Linked DNA regions of Homo sapiens: regions 1, 3 and 4 are each linked to region 2. The links come from fine-mapping of genetic effects on gene expression. A gene starts in region 2. Each other region holds a variant in brackets. All regions are shown on one strand. Distances are between the middles of the regions. Region 1 overlaps TGFA (transforming growth factor alpha). Region 2 holds the start of TGFA (transforming growth factor alpha). Region 3 overlaps TGFA (transforming growth factor alpha). Region 4 overlaps TGFA (transforming growth factor alpha).

What was found. PIP is the estimated chance that this variant, and not a neighbour inherited with it, causes the effect.
Region 1: its variant is the best candidate, but not a certain one, in a credible set for the expression of TGFA in anterior cingulate cortex (GTEx, PIP 0.54).
Region 3: its variant is the best candidate, but not a certain one, in a credible set for the expression of TGFA in spinal cord (GTEx, PIP 0.59).
Region 4: its variant is the best candidate, but not a certain one, in a credible set for the expression of TGFA in left ventricle (GTEx, PIP 0.86).

The regions. Positions count from the first base shown.
Region 1 is chr2:70,468,364-70,473,363 of GRCh38, forward strand. All of the region lies in intron 2 of TGFA (transforming growth factor alpha), which reads right to left. It overlaps TGFA-IT1 (TGFA intronic transcript 1), which reads right to left. Exons shown (of 3, transcript NR_046798.1): 2 at 9-132. Among named protein-coding and RNA genes, the nearest start is that of TGFA-IT1, 11 kb to the right of the region's middle. The variant C/A (reference allele first, on the strand shown) is at 2,225.
Region 2 is chr2:70,550,802-70,555,801 of GRCh38, forward strand. It overlaps TGFA (transforming growth factor alpha), which reads right to left and starts at 3,025. Exons shown (of 6, transcript NM_003236.4): 1 at 2,927-3,025. The coding sequence starts at 2,966. It overlaps LOC124907824 (a long non-coding RNA gene), which reads left to right and starts at 1,907. Exons shown (of 2, transcript XR_007086906.1): 1 at 1,907-2,591. RefSeq lists a silencer at 3,086-3,155.
Region 3 is chr2:70,495,532-70,500,531 of GRCh38, forward strand. All of the region lies in intron 2 of TGFA (transforming growth factor alpha), which reads right to left. Among named protein-coding and RNA genes, the nearest start is that of TGFA-IT1, 16 kb to the left of the region's middle. The variant C/T (reference allele first, on the strand shown) is at 2,932.
Region 4 is chr2:70,526,498-70,531,497 of GRCh38, forward strand. The region is part of intron 1 of TGFA (transforming growth factor alpha); the gene reads right to left. Among named protein-coding and RNA genes, the nearest start is that of TGFA, 25 kb to the right of the region's middle. The variant A/C (reference allele first, on the strand shown) is at 2,707.

The DNA of each region.
Region 1 (5,000 bases), 82 kb before region 2:
ACAGTCACCTGCATGTGCTTGGCTTGAGTGGTTGAGGAACAGGCCCAGTCACTGGCTAACAGTAGACGCTGGATGCTGAATTGAGACAGGAAGGGTCTGCTGTAGTTTGCATAACTGGCTTCTCTGTGCTCACTGAACTTGTCAAGGAACAAACACAGAGAGATGAAGGGGCTAGACTCTAGAGGCCAATGCAGGCCGGCAAGGCAGCAAAACTTCATCTGTACTTACAGCCACTTCCCATTGCTCACGTTAGCTCCGCCTCCTGTCAGTTTAGCAGTGGCATTAGATTCTCATAGGAGCGGGAAACCTATTGTGAACTGTGCATGTGAGGGATCTAGGCTGTGTACTTCTTATGAGAATCTAATACTTGATGATCTGTCACTGTCTCCCATCACCCCCAAATTGGACTGTCTAGTTGCAGAGAAACAAGCCCAGGGCTCCTCCCGATTCTACATTATGGTGAGTTGTATAATTATTTCATTAAATATTACAATGTAATAATAATAGAAATAAAGTACACAATAAATGTAACAAGCTGGAATCATCCTGAAACCAGCACCTCTCCCAAGTCTGTGGAAAAATTGTGTTCCATGCAACTGGTCCCTGGTGTCAAAAAGGTTGGGGGCTGCTGGGCTAGTGGATCTCATTTGATGTACATGTTCAAAAAGGCTTTTGACAGGCTCCACAAAAGGCCGTTTAAACCACCACCTCCAAGTGGCTAGAGGAAGTCCCTTTGTCAGGGCTTTGGGCTGGGTTCCTCCAAGTGTGATCTGCAGACAGACAGCTTCACATTCCCCTGAGTTTGCCTGCCACCCCTACCCAGCCCAGACCTACTGAATCAGGATCTCTGGGGTGAGGCCCAGAAATCTGTGGGACAAACTTGCTAGGTGATTTTTTAAAGTCAGGCCTATTGAAATAGAATTGCTATACTGTAATGTTTGCCCTGCAGGTAATTAATTAATTAATTAATTAATTTATATTTTTATTTTGAGACAGGGTCTCACTTCATCATCCAGGCTGGAGTGCAGTGGCACGTTCATGGCTCACTGCAGCCTTGACCTCCTAGGCTCAAGCAATCCTCCCACCTCAGCCTCCAGAGTAGCTGGGATTAACAGGTACATTCCACTGCACCCAGCTAATTTTTGTATCTTAGTAGAGAGACAGAGTGTCACCACATTGCCCAGGCTGGCCTCGAACTCCTGGGCTCAAGTGATCTGCCTACCTCGGCCTCCCAAAGTGCTGAGATTATAGGTGCGAGCCGCCACGTCTGGCCCCCTGCAGGTGATCCTGATGCACACTAATGTTTGAGACGCAGGCTTGTGTTACACAGAAGCAAAGGATAAATGGGCTCTTGCAAAAGTGGAAAGGCCAGGGTCCTTTTTGGAGCTGATTATCTTCCAGCTCTTCAAACTCCTGTGTGACTCTAAAGCCTGAAATCTGCTGAGGTTCTTCGTGGTAAAGTATTAGGTCAGTAGAAATACAAAGAAAGAGAAAACTTGGAATCTGTTTTGGAACACTTCTCTAAAACTGATTGGTGAAGGGTGGACTCTGCTATGGTCTCATTTAACCCCTATTGATGGATACCTTTGCCTCTTTTTATAAATGACATGAGGTGGTGTTATAAAAATAGGTACCATAAAAAGGCAATGCAAACGAGAAACAAGTGTGTGTGGGAGAAACAGCGAGAAGGAGAGAGACGGGAGAGAGGGACATAAAAAGGAAGAAGGAGGGAAGGAGACAGGAAGGGAGACAGAGAGTAGAGAGAGACGGGGTGGGGTTATGAGAGCGATAAGAGAGAGAAGGAACAGAAGAAGAGGGGAGGGAGGGAAACAGGAAGAAACAGACAGGCGGGCAGTGAGAGAGGGAAGGAGAGATTGGGACAAAGGAAAGTAAGGGTAAGGAGCAGCAATGAGCAAAACAGGCACCAGGTTAATACACAAAGATGGATATCAGAAAATCACACGCACATGCCAAAGCTGAGGGACAAATCTAACTCTATGCCTCCTGGCAGTCTTAGCAAGGATGTATAAGGTTCATTAGATAGGAATATATATACTTGTTCTGCACAAGCTGGACAGGCTCAGCTTTCCCTAAGTCTGTGGTTGGAGAGCAACGGTCAGAGAGCAACTTCTCTTCTTCTGCGGGTGTTTTTGAAGGGGACTTCATGTGCTGTGGTGGATGACATCCTGAACAATTTCCCAAAGAAGCATCTGCCCGTGTAAAC[C/A]ATCAGTTCTTTCACTTCACACAGCTCACTAAGAAGCCAGAAGAGTCCAAGCTGTGAAGAAGCTCCATGCAACAGTAACAGTGATGGCAGATGACATGTGGTGGTCTCGCTCTGTGTATTCAGAGACCAGAGTGGAAACAAGCCTGAGGCTTAGAGTGCAAGTTCCTGGTCCTCCATAATTCCACCTGTCTGCCTCAGCCCAAAGGGCAGAGAGGATGAAGGGAGCTTGATGCTAGTGGATTATCATTAGAAGGTTGTTTATTAAAAAAAACCCTTTTCCTGACTACAACCATGATACATTCACTCTTGAAACTTTTTCAAAAGTTTCAAGACATTTTCTCATTACAAAAGTGACATATTTTTAGGAAATTAAAATAAATCAATATATAATAAGTACCATATTAGAGAATAAAACCCATCTGTAATCCACTATGTAGAGAGAACCATGTAAGTATACACTGCACACGAACATGCACCTAAACTTACTCTTTCTATTCTGTTACGTGCATTCTCCTCCCCGCACCCCCCCCACCATATAACCAAACTTCTTAAAAACAAGCATTTAATTCAAGTTCGAGGTTCTTTGCGCAGGGTGCTGTCCTGCCCCCACCACCCAGGAAGTTCAATGTGCACCATGTGCAGAACGGGTTCCTCTTCCACTGGCATATTTGGCAGCTTTGTAGCTTGTCACAGGTTTTCTGATAGGGGATGTGATTCACACTTGAGACCTAAGTGGACAGGGAGGAGTGGGTCAAACCACAGTCCCAAGGGCAAGCCACACTGTGACCACTCTGCTCTTCCTGTGCACCCTTAGGATGAGCCAGCTCCAGGAGGGGCAGCACTGGGGCTTGTGCGCCCCTAGGGTGCTGTACGAGCCTCGTGAGCTGATGTGCTTTACTAAAGCCATCTCCAACAAGTGAGGGCGGAGTAACTGTTCTCATTTGAGGGCCTTTAAAGGTGTTTGTCTTAGATCCTCCCAGACTCAGCAAAGAACACCCCAAATACCAGGGCAGGGTCAGCCCAGGCAGACAAGGCTATTCCTATGAGAGGCACTTTGGTGAAGGTAGGGGAGGGCAGGGACAGGGATGTCACTTATTGAGTGCTTGCTAAGTGCTGGGGGCTTTCCTTACATCATCCGCCAAGTCGAGGCAGGGTAGGCGGCCTGCTTTAACCTAAGTAGTCTCCATTTTTTAGATAAGAAAACTAAACTGAAGCTTAGACAACCTTGTCAATGGGCAAGGGTTTGCTCAGTAACTTAGAGTACCATCTCCTCCTTGGGGGGCAAAACTGCCTCCAGTTATTTTATAAAAATGAGCATTACAAGGAACCCCCCAAATTCCTGGTATCTTTCCTAAGAATGATTCTCTCAGCCTCTCTCTCAGAGTCTGCCTCTTTCTTTTCTTCCTGCTTTTCTCTCTCTCCCCCTATTTTTTTCTCTATCTCCCTTCACTCTCCCTTTCCCACTCTATTGTTTTTTCTGGAAATTCAAGAAAATAGCGAGTGAGGGAAGGAAAGGCCTAGAGACTTAAAATTTAAAAAAAGAATCACTTAGAAAAGGAAGGTGGCAAAGGCCAGCAGGGAATATCCAAAGAAAGTCTCCCCAAGATGTGCCAGCTGAGGGCAGAGAAGGACTGGCACTGGCCCCCAGGACTCTGGCCCATCTCCTCCAGACACCAAGTCTGAGTAGCACTTGGGGCTGACGATAGGAAAAGCAAATGTTCCAGGTTTTGGAACAGACCTCATATCGAGCCCACCAGCAGCTGGAGTTTCAAAGCCACTCAGTTCCTGTTGCCATGAAATTTATGAGAGGCCCCTCCAGCATGTTAACCAAACGCACATCTTGCAGACACCACTGCTCTCTGGGGAAGCTGTGAAAGCTTTGCCTAGAGACCACAGACCCACTAACAGGGCCTGGAGCCCAACCCTACTTACAGGAAGAGGGTCTGGAATAGCAATTGAGGGGCAGGGAAATCCCCCATCCAATTCACAGGAGGGGTCTCCGTAGTTCAGAGGAGCCAGGGAGACAGCCATCTGGACAGCTCCTCCCAACAGCCCTGCTCCCCTGGGAGCAGCATCCACACCCCTGAGCGCAATCACCCCCTTTAAAAGCAGCCCTAATTGGACTTCATGCTGTGCTGGTCAGCGGGAGCCGGCTGAGCCTGTGGCTCTTAACTCTCTTCCCCAGATGTCAAAAGTTGTGAACACGTTTGCCCATTGCAGAGCTTACATCATTTACAGCCATTTCATAACTTCCTCAGATATCATGGCTAACTTTCTAACAATTTAATCATGACGTCTGGCTTTTTAGTAGGAACTTTCAGCCAAAGTTTCTGACCTGGGACTAAATATTTTGTCTTCAGATACTACAATGGCAAAGCCAACTAATACTTTTTGGATGTCTAGGAGAAAAGGCAGTAGATTAATTTAGTAAAGATGGGAGTCAGCAGTAGCTACTGGGGAAGCTGGCGGGGGGTATAAATCTGATACTCCCAGGTATCAAGGCCTCCATTCCACCCTGAGGCCAGGCTGGAGTCACCCAAAGCTCTGGACTCAGCTCTGGGATGGGAGGCTGGCTTCAGGGCAGCAGCAGGCCCAGTTTACAAGGGTGGAACTCCAAGCTTGGGAGGTGATGCGTGAACCTGCAAAAGCAGCTATGGAGTGAAGGAGAGGCTGGTGCGGAGGCTTACACTCGGGTGGCAGAACTGCTAAGCCAGAGCTTAGAGAAGTAAATGGTCTAGAACCCAGTGGCTGCCCAGAGAGACTTGGTGAGCAGGGA
Region 2 (5,000 bases):
CAGAGCGAGACTCCGTCTCAAAAAACAAAAAACCAAAAAAACAAAAGAAAACAAAACAAAAAAACCCTCCAGATTTGCTTGAATTTGTCATTGGCCAAATCATATTCACCAGAAATTACCTAGGTAGGTTTTTAGGTTGGGTGATATTTTTCGAAGGAATGGTAAAGAGCATGGAGATGAGATAAACGAAAACCTACAAACTCTCCCAGTTATACAACTCACATAACCTGCAATGATGTCTGGAATTCTATGGGGCCCAAAGTAACAACAACAATGATGATGATGATAAGATTAAGATCTTACTACATACCAGGCACCCTTCTGCATACATTAAATATATTCAACAACCCTATTAATATCCCCATTTTGCAGGTGAGAAAAACAAGGCATAGAAAAGCTAAGTAACTTGCCCAAGATCACACATCTTGCTCCGTGAACACAGAGGAGGAAATGTAACTGGAAATGCCAAGCCCCCGTGCGGTCTGCCTGCCAGTGATGGAAACCTGACATGGGAGGGCAGCCACCACAGGAACCTGGGTTATGTTTCCAGTGTTGCCATTTGGGCAACAGTCTTCACATTCTCTTACTGAAAACATTAATCAATGCTCAGGTTCCAAGTAATCAAACATTAACCGAGACTCCTAACAGCCAGTTCCTTCTCAGACTAGCCCCACGGAGGTTTCCTAGATCTCGGGTAGCGATGGAACACTGGTTGATTCTCCTGGAACTGCCTTCAACTATTTAAGAAAAATCAGAGGGGAAAGCAGCTTTGAAGGAAATGTGCAAAGTAAAGCTATATGTGGGAGGCAGCAGTTCTAGTAAACGCACAGAACTCACAGCTGTGATTTTTCTTTTAAAGACATATAAATAAAAAGGAGTCCTCACTGGTGTAAATTACTCCTGCCTTTTTTTTTTCTCCACTTTTTTCAACTGCTCACATTTTGGAACTGTGTGAGCAAGTTTTTACATATTGATCAATCTTTTAAAGTTTATACATCATTTTCTTAAAGAAGGAAACAAAGATCAAGCTGAAAAGAACATTCAGGCAAAAGAGAAAAATTACATGATGAATGAATGCAGTCTTTGTGGGCGAGAATTCTGGGATGGGAGTGTGGGGTGTAGGGACAGCTTTCAAACACTTACTCAAATGTGCTTATCTTCATCATTTCCTGCCTCTAATTTTTACCGAATAACCACCTTGAGATCCCAGGAATTCAATAGGAAACTCAATTTAACAACAAGTTCCAGGGTATTCCACATAATCTCTCTTTAAGGCAAAGTCCCAAAAGAGAGATGGGACTATAATGACCACAAGTTAGGTGACTTTTCATATTCACATTCCTTCCACGTTCTTCGACAATCCTGGTCCAGTTACTTACTGTGGACCCTGTGTGCTTTACTTTCCTCTGCTATATAATGAGAATAATATTAACACCTTCTTTATCCGGTTGGTGTGAAAACTGCATGAATAAATGTAAAGCACTTGGACTGTGTCTGACACAGAGTAAAATGCTCGAATAGCATCAGCTGTTATTACTACTACTACTTACTACTATTATTTGCAAAAACATTACAAGGGATAATTATATCCAGGAAGCTTCCCTTGTATTGGTAATGTTTTATTGCTTTTTCTAAAATTTAAATCAGAGCAACAGTCAATACATGCACACAAAAAAGGCAATTCTTCAAAAATGTGGGGGAAAAGCCTCCCATACCCATGTTACCTGCTGGTGAGTTTCAGGTAAGGGTGTAGCTGGGAGCATCCGGTTCCAAGACTGCCTTGTATTTCTCTTACAGGATGCCTCCCCTTCTGCTGCGGTTTTTAATCAGCGTTTCTAGGGCAGGCTTGCAGGCGGGGCCGCGAACCCCCTGTAGTTGTACACGGAGCTGGGTGAGGCTGCGGCTCTGGGCATTTCTGGGGAGGAGTTCCATGGCTTTCCACAGACTCTAACCACCCTGCAGCGAGCCGCATGCTATACGGGTTAAACTCGGGGCATATCGAACGAACAATTCACTTCACGGAAGACTAGCAATAACCAGGACACCTGCGCTATTGATCAGCTATCTCAACACCAGAGAGACCCACCAGCACAAGGGGCAAGAATTGGCCAGGAGGCGCGCGGCGCTGCGCCCTCACCGCGTCCAGACAGACCCTTGAACTTCACCGCCAAAAAACGCACCGCTCCGCAGACCCGACCCGGGAGAGGGGTTTAACTTCCCCTCACCTTTCCCATCCCTCCTTCATTTCCAAGGACATACTCAAAGGAAACTGGCAACACTCGGTCTAGGGTTTCGCTCCTGCCCTCGGCGGACACCGAAACCACTTCTCCCAGGGAAGTTAATTAAAGGAACCATTAATCCGCCCAAAAATCCAAAACCTACCCCCAAAGCTCAAGAGCTCTGAAAAGAGATCGAGGGCGCCTCTGCCGATCTTGAACATCTCTGCTCGTCGCTGGGGCTTAGAGGTGGGCAGGGGGTGCCAAAGGGGCGCAGGCAAGACCCGGCCAGAGGGTTAGACGCCGGCCCCCGTTCCGAGGCGGCCCAGTCTACACGCCAGCGACGCCGGCTGAGCCGGGCTTGGAGGCAGCCAGGTAAGCAGGTAGGTGTAGGCATGTGTCTGAGCAGACACACAGCTGCGGCGGATTAAAGTTCAAGCCCGTTCACACTCCGCTTCCCCTTCCCAGGTGTTCTCACGCACGGCCCAGGCAGCCACTTTCCCGGGGAAGCCTCGGCGCTCGACCGGACAGTCCCCTCTTTGTCATTCTTAATGACTCCCCTTGCCTCCCAGGCGCCAACCCATTGAGACTACTCGCTTCTCTCCACTCTCCCAGGCGGGCGCAGAAACCCCCGGAAAGGGGAACTCGGCGGGGACCGGGGGAAGCAGGGTGTCGCGCGGCGCAGGGGGCGCCGCAGCCGGCGTACGTACCCAGAGCGAACAGGGCGAGCTGTCCAGCCGAGGGGACCATTTTACGGGCGGGCGGGCAGCAGGCTCTCCAGCCTCCTGCCCTACCTGCGGTGCCCGAGTGGCGGAGCGGCGCCGCGGTGCGGGGGAAAAAGACGCAGACTAGGCAGGGCCTGCCCCCGGCGCGGGAGGGCGGAGGGAGGACCGAGCGCCTCTCTGCTGGCACTCGCCCCGCAGCGCTGCCCGCCGGGCGGAAATAGGAAGGCGGCTACCGTCACCTCCTCGCCACTCGGCGACCGGGGCACAGCTGACCCCCCCCTCCCGCCCCGATGGGGGTGCCCCCCTGAGGGCACAGAGGGTGGGGGTTTGGGGTAAGGGGCGGGGACGCTGAGCGCACCGAGCAGGGCGCGGGCTGCTGGGCGGGGCGACCTGGGATCCCAGAGCCTGGCGGCGCGAGCCGGGCACCCGGGCCGACGAAAAGGCAGGAAGCGCCTGACTTCAGACACCACCCCCGACTGCCAGCGCCGTGCGGCAGCGGACTCCAGCGTGCGGGGTCGGCGCCGGCCGCGTAGCCGGATTGTCCTGGGCCGCAGTGGCGGCTTCCAGGCTCTAGGCGGCGGAGCGGAGCCGCCCGGGCACCCGTTACCTACACCGAGGGGCCGCTCCTGGGGCATCTCTGGGGCGGGGAAGGCTGGAGGCTGGGGACGCAGCCAGGAAAGGGACCTGTGAGTTTCGCCGGCCGCTTGCCAAGACTTGGCTCAAGGAAAGTGGTCCCCTGAATCAATGAAGAATTTGTTAAACCAGGTTTCCCACCTGTGCCACAGTTCCCATCAATTCTGGCAACGCCTGCCGCCTTACCTCCCAGGCAGGCCACATCGTTAAGATCAGTCTTCGTACTTCTGGCCTGGGACTGATAAAAAATGGGTCTCTGTGACGAATCTGGTTATATGGCACCACCAGCTGAGGCCAAAAGCCTGCTAGCCTGCCACCAAGTGTACCCCGAAAGAGGGGTGTGTGGGCCCGAGTCACCTGGGTGGTCCTTTCAGGATTTGTGGCTCTGAGGTGGCCCCTGGTGCTGGAATTTGGGGAGGTGGAGGGGATAGAGGGAAGACATTCTGGGCGAAGAGTGGAAGATCCATAGGTTCCTCGGTGACCCTCATGGGGACAGTACACCCGGGAGATTCATGTTCTCCAGGTACCCGGAGCTCACGGACTGACCCTCTTCTCCTGCCTCCTCTGGCCTACGTGCTCCGGGTAGATCCACTTTCCTTGAAGGTGGGGGTGGGGGCTGTTGGGCCTGGGGAATCTTTTGCTGTTTACTTGGGGAGGCTCAGGCTCTCACGGTTGACCTCTGCCCAGTTTGTTTCATGTAAGTAGAGCAACCTAGTTTCAAGAAGGAAGCACCAGGCCATTGGTCTCAACATTTGGGCAGGAAGCACCAGTGTAAATCATTCCTTTCAATAGATTTGTCGGAGCATACTTTGTTCTTTTAGGGTAAATCTTTTCCTTGGTCCACCCCATGCATGTACAAGGCACACATGCACTTCCTTTAGTAGGTTGTCCCTGACTCCCACTTCCTTCAGGTTGATCTTGACCTGCTCTGGTGGTTTCCCTGTCTCCTCCCTAAACTAGTCTGCTTTGGCTACAGAAGGGGAGGAATCAGGGGTTCCCCCACCCTTCTCCTGTTCCCCAGGACTAGAGAAGGACCTGACTCCTTGCTTCCTACTGGAACACGCAAATCAAGCTCACTGTGGCTGAGGGATGGCTGCCCAGCCGGCTGAGGGTCATGTTCAGCAGTTTCTGCTTATCTGTCCCCTACCCCCAAAGTCAGAGGTGGAGGGAAGTAGCAGAATCAAGTCAATTTCCTTCATGATTGGAAAATATTTTAAATCAAGAGGTAACTTGCAGGCCAGGCATGGTGGCTCACACCTGTAATACCATCACTTTGGGAGGCTGAGGTGGGTGGATTGCTTGAGCTCAGGAGTTCGAGACCAGCCTGGGCAACATGGTAAAACCCCCCATTTCTACTAAACATACAAAAAATTAGCCAGACATGGTGGCGTGCGTCTGTAGTCCCAGCTACTTGGGAGGCTGAGGC
Region 3 (5,000 bases), 55 kb before region 2:
ACAGGTCTCTCTATTAGTCAAATAAATTACCTTAAAAGGAAATTTTATGGTATTCTTCAAACAGATTCTGACACATCTTTTAAAGATTATTTCTACTTGGTCTATAGTCTATATTTTACAACTATTTTGAAGGTGATTCTCTCCAGTATATTTTTTATTGTTACTATGATTATTGTTATTTGAGGGAGATTCTTTTAAGTGTATAATATCATTAACTATAAGCACAATGTTGTACAGCAGATCAATAAAGTTTTTCATCTTGCATAACTGGAACATTCTACCGTTTGAATAGTATAATAATTCCCCATTTTCCCCTCCTGCTCAGTATATTTTTAATTGGTTATTGATGGTTTATAGGAAAACTACTGACTGTTTTCTTACTTGCACCCTACTGGCTACTTTTAAGATTTCTAATAGGCATTTGTGGCAGTTTGTGCGTGCTTCCTTGATATATACTCATATAATTTGTAGAAATAGTGATTTATCTCTTTTCCAACCAGAGGCTCCTGAGCACTGAGGAGCCTGGCTGCCGTGGAGATCTCAGCTGAATACTGCAAAGCTGCTGCCATACCCACATGTGTGAACCTGAAGGCCCCGAGACTGGGGGAAGGAGGTGGTGTTACCAGAGCAGTATCACTGTTATCTGAAGCTTGGACACTGCTTTCCAGTTGCTGCCATAAATTATTTTTATTGTTTTTTAAAAATGAGACTTTAAGACACATATTGCTTCTCAAATAAGAGTCATTCGTAATCTTCACACTCAAGGCAGATCTCCACAGCTCCCTCCAAAATATGCTTCTACCAGAACCCTTTCTTGTTACCACCAAGTTCTTTTGCAGAAAATAGCAGAAAAGGACCTATTTCAAAGGCCATGGACAAAAAATTTTGAGCCACAGGGAAAAAAAAACAGAATACTTCATGCTATTATACCTATGAAGATACAGAAAGAGGCAAAAACTTAATATTGAACCATAACCTCAGACCTGACTCTGGCACAAACCTTTATAGGCAGACAAACCTGAGAGCAAATATTGGCTCTTTGTGACTTACTAATTCTGACCTTGGGCAAGTCACTGAAACTCTCTGGGGCTCAGTTTCCCCATGAATCAATAGGGAATGTTATAAAGGCAAAATGGGTGATATAAAGCACTTGGTATGGTGCATAGTGTTCCTTCCTTCTTTACTTCCTTCATTCATTTACTCACTCAACAAAATATCAAGTGTCTTGTATGCGTCATGCACTGTGCTGGGTACTGGGGATCCATTAATTAACTAGACAGACAAGGTCCCTGCCCTCAAGGAACTTAAGTCTAATGGGGGAGGCAGGCAAATAAGTAAATAAACAAACGAAATCATTATAGACAGCACTGGGTGCTACTAAGGAAATGCACAGAGATGTGATGAAGAGCTACTGCCAGAATCACCATGCAGGGAAAACTTCTCTGAAATGGTGAAGCACATCTGAGACCCGAAGGACATGAATGAGTCAGCCACTGGAAAAACTGGGGAAAGAGCATTCCAGGCAGAAGGAGGAGCAAGTGCAAAGCCTAGAAGTTAGAGAAGGACATGATACATCTGGGAAAAAGAAAGGAGACCAGGGAACCGGAGCATAGAAAGTAAGGAAGAAAGACGTATGAGCTACAGATGGAGTGGGAATGGGTGTTGCACCCGGCAGAGCTCTGCAGGGCAATGGAGAGCTTGGACTTTACTCTGAGAGTATGTTACTATGTATGTTCTTGTAGCTGTTGATATGAGAGATGCAGTATTGGGTTTGCCATTTAAACCAGAAGCTTACACACATTTTTAACTATTTTCTTTGCAACAAAGTATATGACATAGATCTTAACTTAGGAGGCTCATTTTAAGATTGCTAAGCATTTCTGTTCAATTCAGTGAATCTCCAAGGTCCACAACCAGACCTAACCCCATGCACAAAATAATGAAAAGCACTTTCTTCACCTACTATATGGGAGGCACTGAAATAAGAAAAGCCTGCACCAGTGGTCACTGCCTACAAGGAGCTGAGGTCCTTGAGCATCTTCTCCTTTGGGCACATTGCATCCCAGCCCTGCTAACTTCTGATTAAGAACCAGCTGTAGAAAGGAGGGCCAGGCTGGTGGGTAGGATAAGAGAAAGTGGCCTCCAGGTTTTGAAAAGACAGTGGTGGCCTGTGATCTGCTGCTTGACATAAAACTTCCACTGCCAAGAACCTTGGCCATGTCAGCCTGACCAGTAAGAATCATTTTACAGAACCTATGTCACAGCTATCCAGGCTAAGCAATTCTTTCCATCATTTTTTAAAGCTAATTCATATCAAATGCGCAAATCTGTATTTTCACAAAAGGTGTTACAGTTATTTACTTGAGGTACTCTTGCATTGTTCTGCCTTGAAAATTGTTAGATACAAGAGGAAAAATAACTAAAAACAGCTTATTCCAGCATTAACTCTTAGCTCTGCCAATGGAAGAAAGCCAATGTGGTATTTTTATAACCAAAGAAAACTGACTGTTGGTACAATTTCCAGTTTACATAACAGTAGCATTCCAAGAGCTTGTTTGTAAATCATTTGGTGAGATCTCAGAATCCACAGGAAACAGAATATTACAAAAAGTGGGTGAAAGAGCTGGAGCAGCTCATAAAAGCTGGTCTTACCTATTGCATACCTCACCTCTTAAACAGAGTGCTGCTAAATCTGCCATTCTTAACAATACCACCAGGGACAATGTTGGGCACAAATTTTCTGAGAATATGGATTCCTTATGCTGTTCAAACCATCAGCCAGCAGGCTTGGGGCTCCCCCAGGGCCCTGCCTTTCCTGGCATGGGACTAGGGTGGCAGGTGGGAAATAGGCTGCAGGAAGAGGAGGAGATGAGGTTGCAGAGGACCAGAGGTTTGAGGCACCAGTTTCAGATTAACAGAGAGTAAGGGCAA[C/T]GGGGCTTGGGCTAAGGGTTTTGGAACAGGCTGGAGAGAAAAAAATCAAGACAAGGAATGAGTTTTTTCTTCTCTTTATCCCCTTTATCATCAAGTTAAGTGGAGGGGAGGGGAGGTAGAAGGGACCACCCATTTACTGACTGTAAAAGGTGGCAGGTGCAAAGGTGTGGTGGATGCTGCCCCTCCTCTCCTGGTTTTGTGTGTGGCAGTGAGATCATGTCATACATATATGACAGCTTGCACAGATCTAGTTTGCATAAAAGTCCACACCTGCCAGTGTATAATGGCCAGTATTTGTTCTATATTATAGTTGACAAATGCTTTCACATTCATTTGATCTTTACTGCCTTCAACAGACATGCAAAACCAGATTCGGTCTGTGTTAGAGTCAGGATTCAAGAGTCCTTCCCTCTTTTTCCCCTACACTTGTGGTTTTCAACCCTGGCTGCATACTAGAATCTCTGGGGGAGGTTTTAAAAATTACTGATGCCTGGATGCCATCCCCAGGCCCTGTAAATTAGAATCTCTGGGGTGGGGCCAGGACACTAGTGTTTTTAAAACTCCCCAGGTAATTCTAACGTGCAGCCATAGTTGAGAACTCTAGTTCTACTCAATGGTCCTCAAACTTACAGTGAATATGAATCACTAGGGGAGTTAAAAATGCAGATCCCCAGGCCCTACCTCTGAGATTTGCATTTGGCCTATGAAGCAGACATTCCCATTGCTTACCAGTGTACACTCACCTCTATTTCTAGGTATATAGAGGCCTTCCCGGTCTCCTTGGAGCTAGGTATGGCCATATGAGTTGTTTCAGAGAATGAAATGTGAGCACTGACAAGTAACGCATAACTAGGCGGGAGTACCCAGCTTGCTGATGGATCCCACTTGCTGATATGGAGGTCTAACCTGAACTATCAGTTTTCCTGGGGAGTATCCCAGGGCCCGCAGTGGACACAGAGTGACCGAGAGTTAAACCTGCTGTTAAGCCAGTGAAATTTTGTCACTGCAGCATAACCTAACATCTCCTGACTGAACCTTTTAGTCTGGAGTAAATCTTAATTTTTACAAGCGTTCTGGGTGATTCTTATGCCAACAGCCTATGGTCCACACTTTTAGAAGTAACCTCGATGCCATATTAACTTTCTGTACTTCGTTTCTTTATAAAGAAATAGGTGAGCTACAGAGAGCTAGTATTCACTTATTTACTCAACTTTTATTTTGTATCTATTGTGTCAGACATTGCACTAGGGGTTCATCCGTATGCAGAGCATTTTCACAAGTACAGGGACATGAGAAAGCACTCAACAGCTGGCTGCAGCACAATATTGGGGTGAGACTGAGGAAGGATGACCCTGGGGCTGGCGTTTAGGGAGAAACCCAGGATTGAAGGAAAGGATGTGAGTGAAAACAAATGTGTCGCAAGGTTCTAAAACTGTGAAATAAACATAAGCCGCATAAGTAATTCTATATATTCTAGTAGCCACCTTTAGGATAAAAAGGTGAAATTGATTTGAATAATGTATTTAATTTAACCAAATAAGGTCAAAATAGTGTTACTTCAATAAACAAGCAATACAAACATTTATCGATAAGATATTCAGTTTTAATGTACTAAGTCTTCACTATATGGTATATGGTATCTATTTTCAACACATCTCCATTGGAACTAGCCATGTGTCAAGCACTCCACAGCTGCATGTGGCTGCCATATTGGACGATGCAGTTCTAGACAGAGCTGCCAGAGGCTTCTCGGGATATCCTCTTCAAGGAGGTACCACATGCAAGTGGCCTGGGCATCAGGAACTCTTTTACTTAAAAACAAAAATATTAACTGAGAATCCTCTCTGGTCCAGATTTTTAATAGTATCAGCCTTTGAACACCAATAAAAATACACTGATATTTTAAAATATTGGTATCATCAAAGCTCTCTCCCCAAACAACATCCTGGTTCAGGGGCTACATTCACTCACAAAGTGATACTACTTAAGCAGAGTTTAAAAAAAAAAAAGTTAACTTGTAGTCTTAATGGCAAAATGTACTTTTGGAGAATTCTTGTGGCTAAATGAGT
Region 4 (5,000 bases), 24 kb before region 2:
CACTTAGTTGTATGGGCAGAATCTCATTTATTGACTCGAGACAAACCAGTAAGGAACAAGGCATGCCAACCCCAGAGCTGTGGGGCAGAGAGCATCATGTATCTTTTAGCAGTGTCAATTTAAGACATTTTAAAGGAAAACAAAAATCCCGGAGAAAATGCAATAGCTCTGCTATGGGAAAATGGGAGTGGGATCTCCCCTACCAACCCTGCTCTAGTCCATTTTCCCCTTTAACTTTTGCTGGGGAAAGGGTGGTGATGAGAAGCAAAAAGGAGGGAGAGGGAAAAGAGGAAGTTTTCTGCTAGGATGGTTTAGTTCTAGCAAGAACAGAGACCAGCAGGAAGACTACAGAAAGAAGAATGAAGGTGGCAGCATTTCACCTTTAAGTCCCATGTAAGAGTGCAGTGAGAAAAGGGTTTCAGGTTACTAACAGTTAGTGTATTTCTGAAGTATTTTCTGGAAAAATTAGACTCATCTAAATGAAAGTGGTTCAGGAGTCAAAACCAATTGATAAAGTGGTCCAGACACTTTAGAAGACAGTTTTTCAGTTTCTTACAAAATCAAACACACCCTTATACAATCCAGCAATAGTGCTCCTTGGTATTTACCCAAATTAGTTGAAAACTTATCTTCAAAGAAAAATCTGCATATAGATGCTTACAGTAGCTTTAATCATAACTGTGAAAACTTGGAAGCAACCAAAATATTCTTCAGTAGGTAAATGGATAAACAAATTGTGGTACATTCATACAATGGGATATTATACAGCAATGAAAATAAATAAGCATCAAGTCACATAGAGAAAGCTTAAATACATATTACTGCATGAAAGACGCCAGTCTGAAAAGGCTGTATATTGTATGATTCTAACTATATGACAGTCTGAAAAAGGCAAAACTGTAGAGATTGTAAAAAGATCAGTAGTTGCCAGGGGCTTGGGAGAGGGGAGAAAGGGATGAACAGGTGTAGCACAGGCAATTTTTAGGTCAGTGAAATGACTCTGTACAATACTATAATGGTGGGTATGTGTCATTATAAATCTGTCCAAACACATAGAATGTACAACTACAAGAGTGAGCCCTAATGTAAACGAGGGACTTTAGTTTATATCTAACTTTAGTTAACTAATATTAACTTTAGTTAATAATGTACCAAAATTGACTCATCAATTGTAACAAACATATCACACCAATGCAGGATGTTAATAACAGGTGAAACTATGCAGTGGGGTAAAGCTCTCTGTGCTTTCTGCTCAATTTTTCTGTAAATCTAAAGCTACTCTAAAAAAGTATTCTATTACCAGCTGATGACAGTTACAGCACTGTGAAGTTGGATGACTTTACTCTGCACTCTGGATTGTCCAGTCATACTGTTTCCCTAGGTTCAAGTACAACGTCCTTCTCCTAAGGAAGCCATGGCAGGGGCAGCTTGAGTCAGACATTTCTGGAAATGCAGAGGAGACACTGCTTAGTCGTGGATGAGCAGCCTTGTACGGAGCACTGTGGCTCTCAGCCTCATCTGCTGCCCTGTGGGCTCAGCTGATTGCAAAGACAGACAAAGCTCACTTCCAGCCTTTGCCATCACTATGAATTCTACCCTGCTGAAAACAGAGAGGGCAGAAGCACGCTTATTTCTCACCTATGGTGAAATGTGTTGAAGGGCTATGTTCAGTAACATCTAATTTTAGTCAACTAGTCTTAACTTTAGTTAATAATATACCAATATTTTTGATATATTTTGAACAATTGCTCATTAATTGTAACAAACATACTACACCAATATCACATGTTAATAACAGGGTCATAGTAGCATGTATTCACAGTGGCTCCCAGGGAGAAGCAATGACCAGCTTCGGTCAGTAGCTGATCTCGCCGGGCTGGGCTGCCCTGTACCCCAAGCCTCACTCTCACACTGGGAGCATGTCAGACGAGAGGAGGCCGAGAAAAACAATGATCCCTGTGGAAAGAGGCATGGAAAAGGCAGGGGTTGGGGGAGTGGGGAGGGAAGGGTAGAACGATGTGGGGGGCGGGTGGGTCTTCCAGAGAAGTCATCTAGTAGAAAGGTTGACAGGCACACAGTCAGGAATCTGAGCAGCCTTTGAAACAACCAAGAAAAGCCAGTATCCTGGTTTTAGTGCAACTGGCCTTGCTTGTGTGGTTTCCCACAAAAAAGATGATGTATCTTAGGCGCTCTGGCTCTCAGCTGGGGATAAGTTATCAATACAATTTTTAAAAATCTATTGTCAGTGAGCTCTGTGACCAAGAGGGCAGAACCTAAGAGTTACTACAAGGGTAGTTTAATTCAACTTCTTGACCCTCCAGCTATATAAGGGAGGGCTCCCAAGTGGGTATCAGACACGGCCTTTATCATAAAATGAAGCTACAGCTACACAGAATTCTTCCAGCCTCCTCTCCCTGTTCCTTCTTACACTTCAGGAGAGAAAGGTACAAGAGAGCACTGGGTGGGACGAGGGGGGCTTTTAATTGTCCAGCATCCACCTCTGGTGAAAATGTGTAGCAAGCAGCTCACTCCCATCCCTGGCTTTATCTTTGTTGCCAGCACTGTTACAACCTGACATTTTATGGTATGTATGTCTGTTTGTTTTCTGTCTCCTTGGGACCAAGTCAGGTGTGTGAGGTGGAGGGGAGTGTTTTTGGTTCACCGTATTCTCATTGCCCAGAACAGTGCCTGACACATAGACAAGCT[A/C]TCAGCAAACACTTGCTGAAAGAATTGTTTCTTTTCAAGCCAAACCTGCCAGGCAGTTCCGCAGAGACATCCAGGGGGCATGAACTACAGAAGACAACACTTGGACTCTCCTATTTGAGCAGCAGCACTTTATAAGCACCTTGTGGAATCTAGGTGATTTCCATCTGGAGTAAGGAGACACTGTTCCAACCTTTCTGTGATGACAGTTCTCCAACAAATAACACAGACACTGGAGCATTTTTCATCACGGATGCGTGTAAATAAATAGTCATCATGGATGTCTTTTCTGAATAGATGACATCTGACACAGGCCTGAATAAAACGAGGGAGCCAGATCTGGAAATATCTGGAGGAAGAGCACGTGCAAAGGTCCTGAGGAGTGAATCCCCCCGCCCCAGTCCTAGAAAAGAGCAGGTGGCTGCTGTGGCTGGGGGAGGGCACACCGGGAAATGAGGCTGGAGAGATGCTGGGGCAGACGCCTCCAGTGGGGAGCACTAGGGGCCTGGACTTTATTCCAAGCTGGGCAGCCCCTGGAAGACTTTGAGCAGAGGAGCAATAACATCTGATGCATGTGACAGAAGAGACACTCAGGGTCCTGGGGACAGAAGAGGCCTTAAGGAGGCACAAGTGGGAACTGGAAGAATGGGGTGAGATCACTGCAGAAGTTCAGGCAAAGGTCACAGTGGGGTGGCCACTGGGACATGAGAGTTGTCAGACATAGAATATAACAGAAACAGAGCCAGCAGAACTTCCTGAGGGACTGAATGTGGGGGTATACTTTGGCCTCATTCTTCCCTCTGCCTCTATCTATACTATTCCCTGCCTTCTCCTTCTACTTCCTAGGCTATGTTCAACCTCCAAGGCCAGTTCAAGTACCAATGTCTGCAAGAACCTTTCCTGACCACCTCAGATGGGAGATTCTGTCTCCCTCAAAAAAATTTAAAAAGCAAACATGAAGAAGTAGGAACTCAGGCTTAGAGATATCCATTAGCAGGCTCAACTCCTGTGAGAGTCAGACCTACATGAGTAAATCTTATCTTGGTCTGGATAGTTTAAAACTTCTCTGAAGCACTTTCAAGTTCCCTTCCAGGGTCTGCCCACCATCCCTGAAATATTAATACTTCAGGATGCTGCCACCTGGAATGAAGGCTTTGTCCTTGGTCATTCACAGGCAGATCCCAGGGATCTCCATCTAAGGCAGTGGTGTCCAATCTTTTGGCTTCTCTGGGCCACATTGGAAGAAGAAGAATAAGAACACACATAAAATACACTAACAATAGCTGATAAGCCAAAAATAAAATCACAAAAAATCTTGTAATGTTTTAAGAAAGTTTATGAATTTGTGTTGGGCCACATTCAAAGCCCTCCTGGGCCACAGGCGGCCCATGGGCCACAGGTTGGACAACCTTTGTCTAAGGTAACCCCAGGTTTACTTATAAGACATGCATTAAATACCCAGGAGAAATTAGCCTGCAGATGACAACGGCTATGCCCAAGGCTTTCTGGAAGCTCACACAGTGTCTCATCTAGCTCAGCACAGACCTCAGCAATACCACCTGCAGGCAGGTCTGACAGCAACCCAAGCTCAGAGGTGAAGGGTCCACAAGGACCAAAGCAAACAGGCTCGGTGCTGGCCTGGTACCAGAGCACGTGCAAGCTGCAAATGCCCAGCCCAAGACTGTGCTCTCCTCTAGGTTTCTATGCCCTCAATGTACCACCTCTGCAGCAATCCCTGAGGCCCCAGGTCTCCACTTTCCTTTATATCTCCACACTGCACCTGTGGGAGAAAGTTTAACAGAGATAGCCACCTCCACTGAAGTGGGTGTGATGATGCTGAGCTGGCTGCTCGGGCAGGAGCACTGAGACATACCCTATATCCTCCAGGGAAAGGAGTCCTCCCCTCTAAGAAAAGGTAGAAGGCAGTGTTCCTTCTGACTAAGAGCCAGACAGAATACTCATGTGATAACTCAACAAGGGCCCAAAGTTGACAGACCTGAACGTCCACACAGAGTATGGTCAGTCCCATTAGCTGTGTTTTTTTGCCTCTTACTTCGAGGGGAGGCAGACACCCCAGTGTGTCCTGAAGGGTTTCAAACATACCAGTCCACACCCTCATGGGCTCTTTGCCTTGCTGGGAAGCCAATCCTGTCTAACAGGACTCCGTAGTGATTCTCCATGGCTATGGTACTAGATTTATGGAACACCTTTTAAAGCCTCAAGTACTGCGTTTAAAAAAATAAAAAGCCATGAGATATAAGCAACATAAGTGGGGACACCTTCAACTAATTCTTAGA